3 linked regions of the Homo sapiens genome follow. The protein of the gene in region 2 interacts with the protein of the main gene of each other region in a pairwise test. Each region holds a gene or a part of one and is shown on either strand. Other genes may lie near its edges.

Region 1 (3,500 bases), on a different chromosome or scaffold from region 2:
TGAAAGCTTTGGAATGGTGTTCTAGAAATTCACTGACCTGTAAATATGTTATTCAGCAGTTTGGCATTGGCCTTACCTCAATTACCAGACGTCAACATCAGCCAAACCTTGAGGCAAATCATTCATCCTGCTAGTAGTCTTAAAATCAGTGCTATGGGGAAAATGGAATTGCAAAGTTGAAAAAGGAGACTGTTGACATTGGTCCTTAAGACTTCTGAGTTAGAAGATTAAGTAATCTTTTAGTAAATGCAATCAAAAAAGAATATGTAACTAATTATAAGTTATACTATTCTAATTTTTTAAATTGCCTTTCCCCCCATAAGAATTCTATGCAGTTATCATATATTTAAATCTGAATAGTATCTTGGCAAGAACTTAAGTATATAGCATTTTGGTTAATCACTTTTCGATTACAGTCATTAACCTGGACCATTTTGAGGAGGAAAAATCTTCAAATTTTGACTGTTGATCGATTTTTATTGCCAGAAACGACTCTTAAAGAATAAAGAATCAACAAATGGTTTGAGAGTACTTATTTGAGACTTATTAGTATTTCAATTTTTTTATCTCTTTATTTATTCAATGAAAATTCCTGGAGCCCTGCTTTATGCCAAGACTTGAGCTAACTGGGGCCTTAAATGGGAAAATAAAGAAGACTAAGACATTTGCTTGCTCTCAAGAAACTCAGAGTTTAGTGGCTTCTTTTCCTCATTAAAGGGTTCCTTTGTTCCTTTGTTGTTCTTGTTTTCTACTTGGAAAATTCTCCGTATCTTTTTTACTTTTTTTTAAGGTTTTGCTTTTTAACCTCTAAAACTTTAACTAGATCCCGATCTGGAATGCGAGACAAACGCATCTCAGAAGGATAACTGCTGATTTCCCTTCTGTTTTCAGTCTGCTCCCCTGGTTTTTATGGGCATCGCTGCAGCCAGACATGCCCACAGTGCGTTCACAGCAGCGGGCCCTGCCACCACATCACCGGCCTGTGTGACTGCTTGCCTGGCTTCACAGGCGCCCTCTGCAATGAAGGTAAGGCACGAAGCATCCCGGACAGCTGGGTGGTGATGAGCACGCCCCGGAGAGTCTGTCCTCAGGCCTCCCCTTGGCCTTCCTGAAGGCCATGTTTTCAGCTGTCTGCTGGGAATGTCTTCTGCTGTGCTGTGTCTGCAGCTTCTCAGATAGGACTTTGAGCTTTGGAAAAGCTGGCTTGCCACTCCAGCAAAACCTTTTTATTTCCTGAGATGTGCTACTCTTCAGTTTTAGCTGGACATGTCCTCCCATAAAAAATCAATATGCGGAAGAATTTTAGACTCCCAGAGCAAGAAGTCGTGAAGTCATATTTCTAGAAGTGCAATGATGTCCCCTGGTTTGTGATGCCTTAATGCAAATCTTTGGCTTCATGGATTTGTAAAAATGAGCCCATTCAAGATGAAGGATGCTGTTGAGCAGAGATAGCTACCAATGAGCAGCTGGGCCTGTGACCTTTAAAGTTATTTCCTGTGCTAAGATTCTAGGGTTCTGCGAGAGGGGTTTTGATTGTGAGTTACTGACCTATAGCTTATTCACAGTGTGTCCCAGTGGCAGATTTGGGAAAAACTGTGCAGGAATTTGTACCTGCACCAACAACGGAACCTGTAACCCCATTGACAGATCTTGTCAGTGTTACCCCGGTTGGATTGGCAGTGACTGCTCTCAACGTAAGTCTTGTTTGAGAACAATTAATAAACTGTTCTTATTTGTTTGTTTTCAGATTCTTTAGGATTGAAGTATGAGTGTTTTTATATAATCAAGAAAGAATATATGACTAATTAAAAGACACATTCTACTTTAAATTCTTTTTTTAAAATTCTTTTTTTTTTTCCCATTACGACCTCTATGCAATGGTCCTATGTTTAAATCCAAATAATGTCTTGGAAAGAACCTAAATATGTAACATTTTCCTTATCCCCTTTTCAGTGATTCATCGTCCATTGAAATAAAGCAAAAACAGCTGTATTGAGAAATCTATCTCTTCATTTTGTGTTTATCTGGAGAGTTAATTACAGAGAAAGAAAAAATGGAATTAAATGATGTGAGCCTTAGAAACCTATTGGGAACCTGAGCGAACTGCCCACCTAATATGCTTAGCTTCACCTTGGCATCACCCAAGTGCCTTCCACACCACTGGATTTCAGACAGGAATTGTGTGACCCTATAAGGGACTATATAGATGACTCTTAGAGCACCCATGTCATGAAAAAAATGACATCGACTATAAGTCATTCATGAATGTTTTGAAAGGGTCAGTGCAATGTCTAAAAGTATTCAACTTTTGACCAAAAAATAGCATATGTATGGAGTAATCTGGTTTCATTCATTTTAAATTTTATGAAACACTCTCAGTTTATATTGAATTCCCCCATCATGCACATAAGAGAAATCAAAGAATGACTGTGTGCAGTCATTTTACATGGTGCTTTATTGATAATTTAATTCAAACTTCACAGTTACAAGCAACCTGCAAATACTAATTGATGAGCAATATATTTTTTGCTGGAAGATTTTTTTCTGAATGTTAATTTTTTCCATAAGTAGTCCAGGCTGTACCCCATTTTTTAGGAATAAGGGAAGAGAGCTAATAAATCTCAGAAGTGTAGCTCTTTGGTGAAAGAAGTGTTATGCGATATGATTTCACTCCATTCTGGGGGCATCACTTCAGAAGAAATCAGTCTGTTTAAATCTACATGTGTTGCAAGGGCTCTGACTGATGGTTGGGCGTATGGGTTTGGGAAGAGTAAAAGGTCCAATATCATTGTCACAAAATGATTGATTTATATTGCTCCTTTAAAAAGTAGTCTTTATTTTGGAAATTTGTCCCTTCCTCATTTGGAGGAGGAATGTGCTGAAAGGAATAAAAATAGAAACACAACTATGAATGGAGACTATAGTGTTGCCTGTCCCAATAATCACTCCACAGGAAGCTGACTTATTTGGCAAAAGCCTTTGCTTCTCCTGGGGATCATTGATTTCATTGATTCCCTTATGGACTCTGTGGAACCATCTTCATATTTCTTCTTAGCTGATTGTGAGCCTGTCTAAAGAGAGCAAAGTCCTTCACAGTGAAAACACAGACTTTGAAAACTTAAAGGGGTACATTTAAAGGGGCAGGTGTCCTTGGGAAAATGATTTTTTAAAGCACTATCTCTACGTTTACCTTTTGGGAATATAAAGTTGAGTGATGCTTATTCCCATTCTCTGATCATAACAAATATAGGGAGAAAAACCTAATGGCAGTGGGTTACCTCAGAAAAATATATTGTGAACATAAATGGGTTTACAGAAGCTGGTTAAATATCATCTAAGGAATAGGTTGTTTTAGGTAAAGAGTGCTTCACTGAGCATCAAATGGGCTAGACGCTTCAACAGTTTTCACTGAGTCTCACTGTGGCTTTGGGAAAGCTGTATTTGTCTAACAAATAACAAATATTATTATTAATCTATGTGACCTTGTACGAGTCACTATT
Region 2 (3,500 bases):
TTGGAATGGTGAAAAGAGTCAGTAGTTGAGAGGGGGGCCATTCTGAGAGCTGGGAAAATCTGGGTTTAGGAGGCTGTGAAGTCAAGAAGACTCACACCTGGGAAGAAACTGATATAGCCAGACTCCTCCAAAGGTCAGGGTCAGGGAGATGGAGTGGTGGAGGCCAGAAGGAAGTGTGGGGGCATAAGCCATGAAAGACAGGGTGAGAGGAGAGACAGGCCCATCCCCCAAAGGAGAAGGCATCCTGTGTGTGTGTGTGTGTGTGTGTGTGTGTGTGTGTGTGTGTGTGTGTGTGTGTGTGTATTCTCCATATGCTGCTGTTTTGTTATGTGGAGGTTTTTCTAAAACCTGGCCAGGTGGTCACCCTGAGGGCTATAGTCCTCAGTACTGGGCCACAGCCAGTCATTTGTGAGTCCTCCCTTCCCCTTCCCTCTTTCTTTCCCTATGCTCCAGGTATTTTGGGAGTCAACAGGCCGCACCTATTGGGTGCACTGGCACATGCTGGAGATCTTGGGCTTTGAGGAAGACATTGAGGACATGGTTGAGGCTGATGAGTACCAAGGGGCAGTGGCCAGTAGAGTCCTGGGTAGAGGTGAGCTCAGGGAGGAAGCAAGGGTCAGCTCTGAGCAGAGGAATGGTGGTCCTGCTGAGTTGCTAGTGACATCCTTGTGCCCCTTGGCCCATTTTCACAGCCCTGCCTGCCTGGCGCTGGAGGCCCATGACAGAACTCTATGCTGTGCCTTATGTGCTGCCTGAGGATGAGGACACTGAGGAGTGTGAACACCTGACCCTGGCTGAGTGGTGGGAACTCCTCTTCTTCATCAAGAAGCTGGATGGACCTGACCATCAGGAGGTTCTCCAGATCCTCCAGGAGAACCTAGATGGGGAGGTAGAGCCAGCCTGGAGACACTCAGAGGTTGGAGGGCTCTATTGCAAGGGCTGGACTGTATAGAGCATTTGGAAGGCTCAGGATGAAAAGTGGAGGTCAGAGAGTGGAAGGGGCTGCAGAGGAGGGGTCTGGAATTTTCAGAGGTGGGAGGGTGAGCTGTTTGGGAGGAGCCAGCTGCCAGCTGTGAGAGGATCAGGATGGAGGGTATGTGTGCAGAGAGACCCCCACCCCTACCAAGTGCTCCCTGGGGCCTCTGGGTCGGCAGGGCTGTCTGCAGTGAGAGCTTCTCCTTGATGGCAGATTCTGGATGATGAGATCCTAGCTGAACTGGCCGTGCCCATAGAATTGGCCCAGGACTTGCTGCTGACTCTGCCACAGCGACTCAATGACAGTGCCCTCAGGGACCTGATCAACTGCCATGTCTACAAGAAGTATGGGCCTGAAGCCCTAGCAGGGAACCAAGCCTACCCATCCCTTCTAGAAGCCCAAGAAGATGTCCTCCTGCTAGACGCGCAGGCCCAGGCTAAGGACTCAGAAGATGCAGCCAAAGTGGAAGGTGGGTGCCAGACACAGCAGCTGAGCTGACACACCTTCAGGGCAGTAGCACAGGAGAGATGTCTGTGCTGATTTTTATGCAATCCTTTCTGGAAGTGATGCCACCTTAGAAGCTGCAACTTAGAGAGAAGCAACAAACGGAGAAGCAGGCATTGTGTTCCCTCAAAGAATGAAGGAGGATGTAAAGTTAGAAAATTGCAAGAGAATTTTGAAGACTTAAAAAAGCCCCCACATTTAGCTTTTTCTCTTGTACAGAAACATATTCCATGCTTTGAAATAAAGGGAAGTGCTCTCCTGTTTTCAGATGAAGCTACTTTGCTATTTTAAGAATATAAAGGCCGGGCATGGTGGCTCACGCCTGTAATCCCAGCACTTTGGAAGGCCAAGGCAGGTGGATCATGAGGTCAGGAGATCGAGATCATCCTGCCTAACATGGTGAAACCCCGTCTCTACTAAAACTACAAAAAAAAAAAAATTAGCCGGGCGTGGTGGTGGGCACCTGTAGTCCCAGCTACTGGAGGCTGAGGCAGGAGAATGGCGTGAACCCAGGAGGCGGAGGTTGCAGTGAGCCGAGATCATGCCACTGCACTCCAGCCTGGGTGACAGAGCGAGACTCCGTCTCAAAGAAAAAAAAAAAAAAAGAATATAAAATTTGTCATGAAGCTGTCTTACAATGACATTCAGAGATTAGATCCCCAAACCTAACTTTTAGGGGGATTAAAAAATTTAAAACATTTTTTAGGAGAAATTAGAGAAAAAGATTGAGAGTTATGAATCTATTTCTGAGCCTTCACATTACTAACAATGGCCAACTCCTGTGACTGTCCCCTTCCTGTAGCAAAAGAACCCCCATCTCAGAGTCCCAACACTCCCCTGCAGCGTCTGGTGGAGGGTTATGGTCCAGCTGGGAAAATCCTCCTGGATCTAGAGCAAGCCCTCAGCTCAGAGGGGACCCAGGAGAACAAGGTCAAGCCACTCCTGCTGCAGCTGCAGCGGCAGCCGCAGCCCTTCCTGGCACTGATGCAGAGCCTGGACACTCCGGAGACTAACAGGACCCTGCACCTGACTGTGCTGAGGTGAGAGCATGGTGACAGGTGGGATCTCTGAGGGCAAAGGGGGTCCATGAGGCTGGCTACACATTTCTCTGCCCCCAGAATCCTGAAGCAGCTGGTGGACTTCCCCGAGGCACTGCTGCTCCCCTGGCACGAGGCCGTGGATGCCTGCATGGCCTGCCTGCGGTCCCCAAACACTGATCGAGAGGTACCCCTGCCCTGCTCTGGGGAGAGGCTGGGGGAGAGGATAAAGGCAGCCACTGGCAAGGCACACCTGCTGGGCAAGGCTCTGGAGGGCGTGATAGAGCCTTTGAGCTCTTGGTTTGAGTTTTGCTTTTAAAATTGAATTTTATTTTTTTTAAATAGGTAATACATTCACATGGTTCACAAATCAAAACGCTCTAACAAGGTATACACTGAGAATTCTTGCTCTCACCCAAATCTCTGTTCCCCCAGGGTCCCCCACACACCCCTTACTGGTAACTACTTGTATTAATTTATGTATCTTTCCCGTGTTCCCTTATGCAAATATAAGCAAACCCAAATGTGTGATCTTGCCACTCTCTTTTTTACACAAAAGGATATGGAGATATTATTACATAAAACATTAAGAGCTTCAATAGCTCCATTTTTGGCTGGGCCTGTGGGAGAAAGGGGGATGAAGGAGGCAGAGCGCCCATCACATACCAGAGTCCCCTGCAAGAGCTACAGAGAAGTCCTGGGCACAGAAGGCTTCAGAAGGGCTCAGAGAACTAGGGTCATGGTGACAGTAGGTATTTGCAGTGTGGCTATATTTTTGGCTGTTACCTAGAATTTACTTTCTAAGGCAGGCTCATTGGGTATAATACACACACAAACCCAGTCCCTGTCAGCCCCTTCCCAGCCATCCAGGTGTCTGTGCCTGAACATCTCAAAACACAGCCCTACAACTGGTTTTTGGGACAGTAGGGCCTGGATGAAAGAACCCAGGGATGCTCTCTGCCGTTTTTGCCAACATAATCAGC
Region 3 (3,500 bases), on a different chromosome or scaffold from region 2:
TTTTCCCAGGTGGACATCCAGGTGCGTGGCCCAGGGGCTTGCCCACAGGTCGAAGGCCTGGCAGGTCCCCACCTGGTGCCTGTGGGCTGGGAGAGCCATTTGGCCCTACGCGTGCGGAACCTTCAACATTTCCGAGTGAGCCATCAGGAGGGAAGGGGACAGGGCAGTGAGGTCTGCCAACAGCGTGTCCACACTCCTGACAGCGTCCTTCCCCAGGGCCTGCCTGCCTCCTTCCACTGCTGGCTGGAGCTGCCTGGAGAACTTCGGGGACTGCCGGCCACCCTGGAGGAGACAGCAGGGGATTCAGGCCTCATCCACTGCCAGGCCCACCAGGTGAGTGGCTGCCTTCCAAACCCTCTTGCCCCCAAGCTTCCGTAGACCCTCAGGGGTCTGCCATCTTTGTGGAGAGCCTGCTTGGGGCCCATAACCTCTGTCTGTGGGCCCCAGTCTTGGGGGAGAGGCAGGGAACAATCACATTCATTCTGGGGGGTGGCCCAGAGGAGACAAGAGTCAGAGGTGCCCTGAGTGGGCACCCAGCCTGACCCCACACTCTGCCCACAGTTTTATCCCTCCATGTCCCAGCGGGAGCTCCCAGTGCCCATCTACGTCACCCAGGGTGAAGCCCAGAGGCTGGACAACACCCATGCTCTTTATGGTGAGCCTGAGGGCAGCCAGGCAGGCGGGGCAGGGTGGGTGGCAGACAGGAGGCGCTCAGCACACTGCCTGACCCTCCCTAGTGATCCTGTACGACTGCGCCATGGGCCACCCGGACTGCAGCCACTGCCAAGCGGCCAACAGGAGCCTGGGCTGCCTGTGGTGTGCTGACGGCCAGCCTGCCTGTCGCTATGGGCCCTTGTGCCCGCCGGGGGCTGTGGAGCTGCTGTGTCCTGCGCCCAGCATTGATGCAGTGAGTCTCCTGCCGGGCCCCCACAGCCCAGTGGCCCACTTCTCCTGCCCCGCACTGTCCTGTCCTCCGTGATCAGACCAGCCCTGCCCCAGGCCCCCAAACCCCAGCAGCTCGGCCTGGCTGGGCTGGTTGGCTGGCCGGGCACCCAGCACTGCAGAGTGGAGCGTGGGTGCGGGGGACCCCATCTGCCATCATTTGCCTGCTGCAGGTCGAGCCCCTGACCGGTCCCCCTGAGGGAGGCTTGGCCCTCACCATCCTGGGCTCCAACCTGGGCCGGGCCTTCGCCGATGTGCAGTACGCCGTGAGCGTGGCCAGCCGGCCCTGCAACCCTGAGCCCTCTCTCTACCGCACGTCGGCCCGGTGAGGCACTTGGAGGGTGAAGATGGGTGGGGAGGCCCTCAGAGATGGCCACCCAGAGATAAGGAAGGCCTGTGGCCAAGAAACCTGGGGCACTCGGGTCAGGGGAGGGGTGGGCTGTCCCCTCCGTCCCTGAGCCCTGAGCAGCTCCCAGGCCTCGGCTTTCCAGGATTGTGTGTGTGACATCTCCTGCCCCCAATGGCACCACTGGGCCCGTCCGGGTGGCCATTAAGAGCCAGCCACCAGGCATCTCAAGCCAGCACTTCACCTACCAGGTCAGTGGCCTCCCAGGTGTGCCCTACGCAGGGGAGGGTAGGAGGGAGGGCCAGGAAGGACAGGCGCCTAGTAAGGATGTCAAGCTGGGTCTGCGGGGAGCAGGAAGCACCGCTGCATGTCTAGGAGGGAAGCCATGGCATGTGAGTGGAGGTGGGCAGCCAGGCCAGTCTGAGGCACGAAGCTCTCAGGATCTGTTGCCCTGGGCACTTGGTGGCACCGTTTCCTGGGTGGGAAGCCTGGGACAGGAGCAGTGAGGGCAGGGGTGGGTTCTGCCCAAAGAGGCAACTGGATTTGAGAGTTTAGAGCTCCAGGTCTGGGGGCTGTAAGCTGTGGTGGGGAGGAGGCTGTCCCAAGGGGGACAGAGTGGCAGTGAGGATGAAAGAGCCCCACTTCTACTCCCCATGCGGCAGGGGTGGGTGGGAGGAAGCTGGCCAGTGTGCAGTGGCCTCGGGAAGGAGGGCGTGGTCCACTTTGGCCCCAGGAGGTGAAGTCCAGAGATGACCTGCGCTTCAGAACCGGAGGGCCTTGGGCATGGCCCAGGGGGGTGAAAGGGCCAGGCTGGGCTGCCGTGCCTACCCAGCCTGCGCTGTTCGCCAGGACCCTGTCCTGCTGAGCCTGAGTCCTCGCTGGGGCCCCCAGGCAGGGGGCACCCAGCTCACCATCCGAGGTCAGCACCTCCAGACAGGTGGCAACACCAGTGCCTTCGTGGGTGGCCAACCCTGTCCCATGTGAGTCCCGGCCTGGCTGCCGTCGGGTGGTGGGCACTCCCATAGGCCTCAGTGGGGGTGGTACATTTAGAGAAGTGGTTGCTGTGGCCACCCCCAGTGGTCCCTGCCCTTGTCAAGGCAGGCAAAGCAGGGCTTCTCCTACGGGGGTTGGGCCAGGGCTGGGGTAGAGGGGTGGTAGAGCCGAGATGAGAGACCCCACTACCCATCCTGCAGCCTGGAGCCAGTGTGTCCGGAGGCCATCGTGTGCCGTACCAGGCCCCAGGCTGCCCCAGGAGAAGCAGCGGTCCTTGTGGTCTTTGGCCATGCCCAGCGCACACTGCTCGCCAGCCCCTTCCGCTACACCGCCAACCCCCAGCTTGTAGCGGCGGAGCCCAGTGCCAGCTTCCGGGGGTGAGGGTCAGCCCGCAGGCCAGCCTGTGCACCACGCAGGAGGGAAGGTGGGATGCGGGCTGGGCTATGTTGCCCACCGCCCGCCCACACCCGACTGCCATCCTGGTACAGGGGTGGGCGACTGATCCGTGTCAGGGGCACCGGCCTAGACGTGGTGCAGCGGCCCCTACTGTCTGTGTGGCTGGAGGCTGACGCAGAGGTGCAGGCTTCCAGGGCCCAGCCCCAGGACCCACAGCCAAGGAGGAGCTGTGGAGCCCCTGCTGCGGACCCCCAGGCTTGTATCCAGCTCGGTGGGGGGCTGCTGCAGGTGAGCCCCTCACCAGCAGGCGACAAGGCTGTCCCCGACCATGCCCATGCCCAGTGGGGAGGAGGAGGGTAGGCCGCCATGCCCCTAGCAGCGCACAGCAGAGCCCAGCTCACTCCACCTGTGGTCGGCCCTGAATGCCCCACAGTGCTCCACCGTCTGCTCCGTCAACTCGTCCAGCCTCCTCCTGTGCCGGAGCCCTGCTGTACCAGACAGAGCCCACCCGCAGCGGGTCTTCTTCACCCTAGACAACGTGCAAGTGGACTTCGCCAGTGCCAGTGGGGGCCAGGGCTTCCTGTACCAGCCCAACCCCCGCCTGGCACCCCTCAGCCGCGAGGGGCCTGCCCGCCCCTACCGCCTCAAGCCAGGCCATGTCCTGGATGTGGAGGTGAGGGCCACCTTCAACCCTGCCCCGCCACGGTGCTCAGGCCGCCTCTGTGGGGGCCAGCGGCTTAGGCTCCCATGTGTGTCCCAGGGCGAGGGCCTCAACCTGGGCATCAGCAAGGAGGAGGTGCGCGTGCACATCGGCCGCGGCGAG

The links.
Region 1: the proteins of CUL7 (region 2) and MEGF10 interact in a two-hybrid assay, tested with the Homo sapiens proteins (one large-scale study listed by IntAct).
Region 3: the proteins of CUL7 (region 2) and PLXNB3 interact in a two-hybrid assay, tested with the Homo sapiens proteins (one study listed by BioGRID and IntAct).

What each region holds. Positions count from the first base shown.
Region 1 is NC_000005.10:127,433,796-127,437,295, forward strand, and holds part of MEGF10 (multiple epidermal growth factor-like domains protein 10 isoform a precursor), read left to right. Parts: intron 1-891; coding exon 892-1,026; intron 1,027-1,565; coding exon 1,566-1,694; intron 1,695-3,500. UniProt on the Homo sapiens protein: Membrane receptor involved in phagocytosis by macrophages and astrocytes of apoptotic cells. Receptor for C1q, an eat-me signal, that binds phosphatidylserine expressed on the surface of apoptotic cells. Cooperates with ABCA1 within the process of engulfment.
Region 2 is NC_000006.12:43,047,352-43,050,851, reverse strand, and holds part of CUL7 (cullin-7), read left to right. Parts: intron 1-453; coding exon 454-592; intron 593-692; coding exon 693-889; coding exon of another isoform or gene 890-916; intron 917-1,189; coding exon 1,190-1,445; intron 1,446-2,282; coding exon 2,283-2,520; intron 2,521-2,598; coding exon 2,599-2,704; intron 2,705-2,862; exon of another isoform or gene 2,863-2,875; coding exon of another isoform or gene 2,876-2,905; intron 2,906-3,500. UniProt on the Homo sapiens protein: Core component of the 3M and Cul7-RING(FBXW8) complexes, which mediate the ubiquitination and subsequent proteasomal degradation of target proteins. Core component of the 3M complex, a complex required to regulate microtubule dynamics and genome integrity.
Region 3 is NC_000023.11:153,770,749-153,774,248, forward strand, and holds part of PLXNB3 (plexin-B3 isoform 1 precursor), read left to right. Parts: intron 1-9; coding exon 10-135; intron 136-216; coding exon 217-333; intron 334-561; coding exon 562-655; intron 656-737; coding exon 738-907; intron 908-1,115; coding exon 1,116-1,267; intron 1,268-1,433; coding exon 1,434-1,539; intron 1,540-2,137; coding exon 2,138-2,268; intron 2,269-2,481; coding exon 2,482-2,658; intron 2,659-2,769; coding exon 2,770-2,965; intron 2,966-3,110; coding exon 3,111-3,350; intron 3,351-3,437; coding exon 3,438-3,500. UniProt on the Homo sapiens protein: Receptor for SEMA5A that plays a role in axon guidance, invasive growth and cell migration. Stimulates neurite outgrowth and mediates Ca(2+)/Mg(2+)-dependent cell aggregation.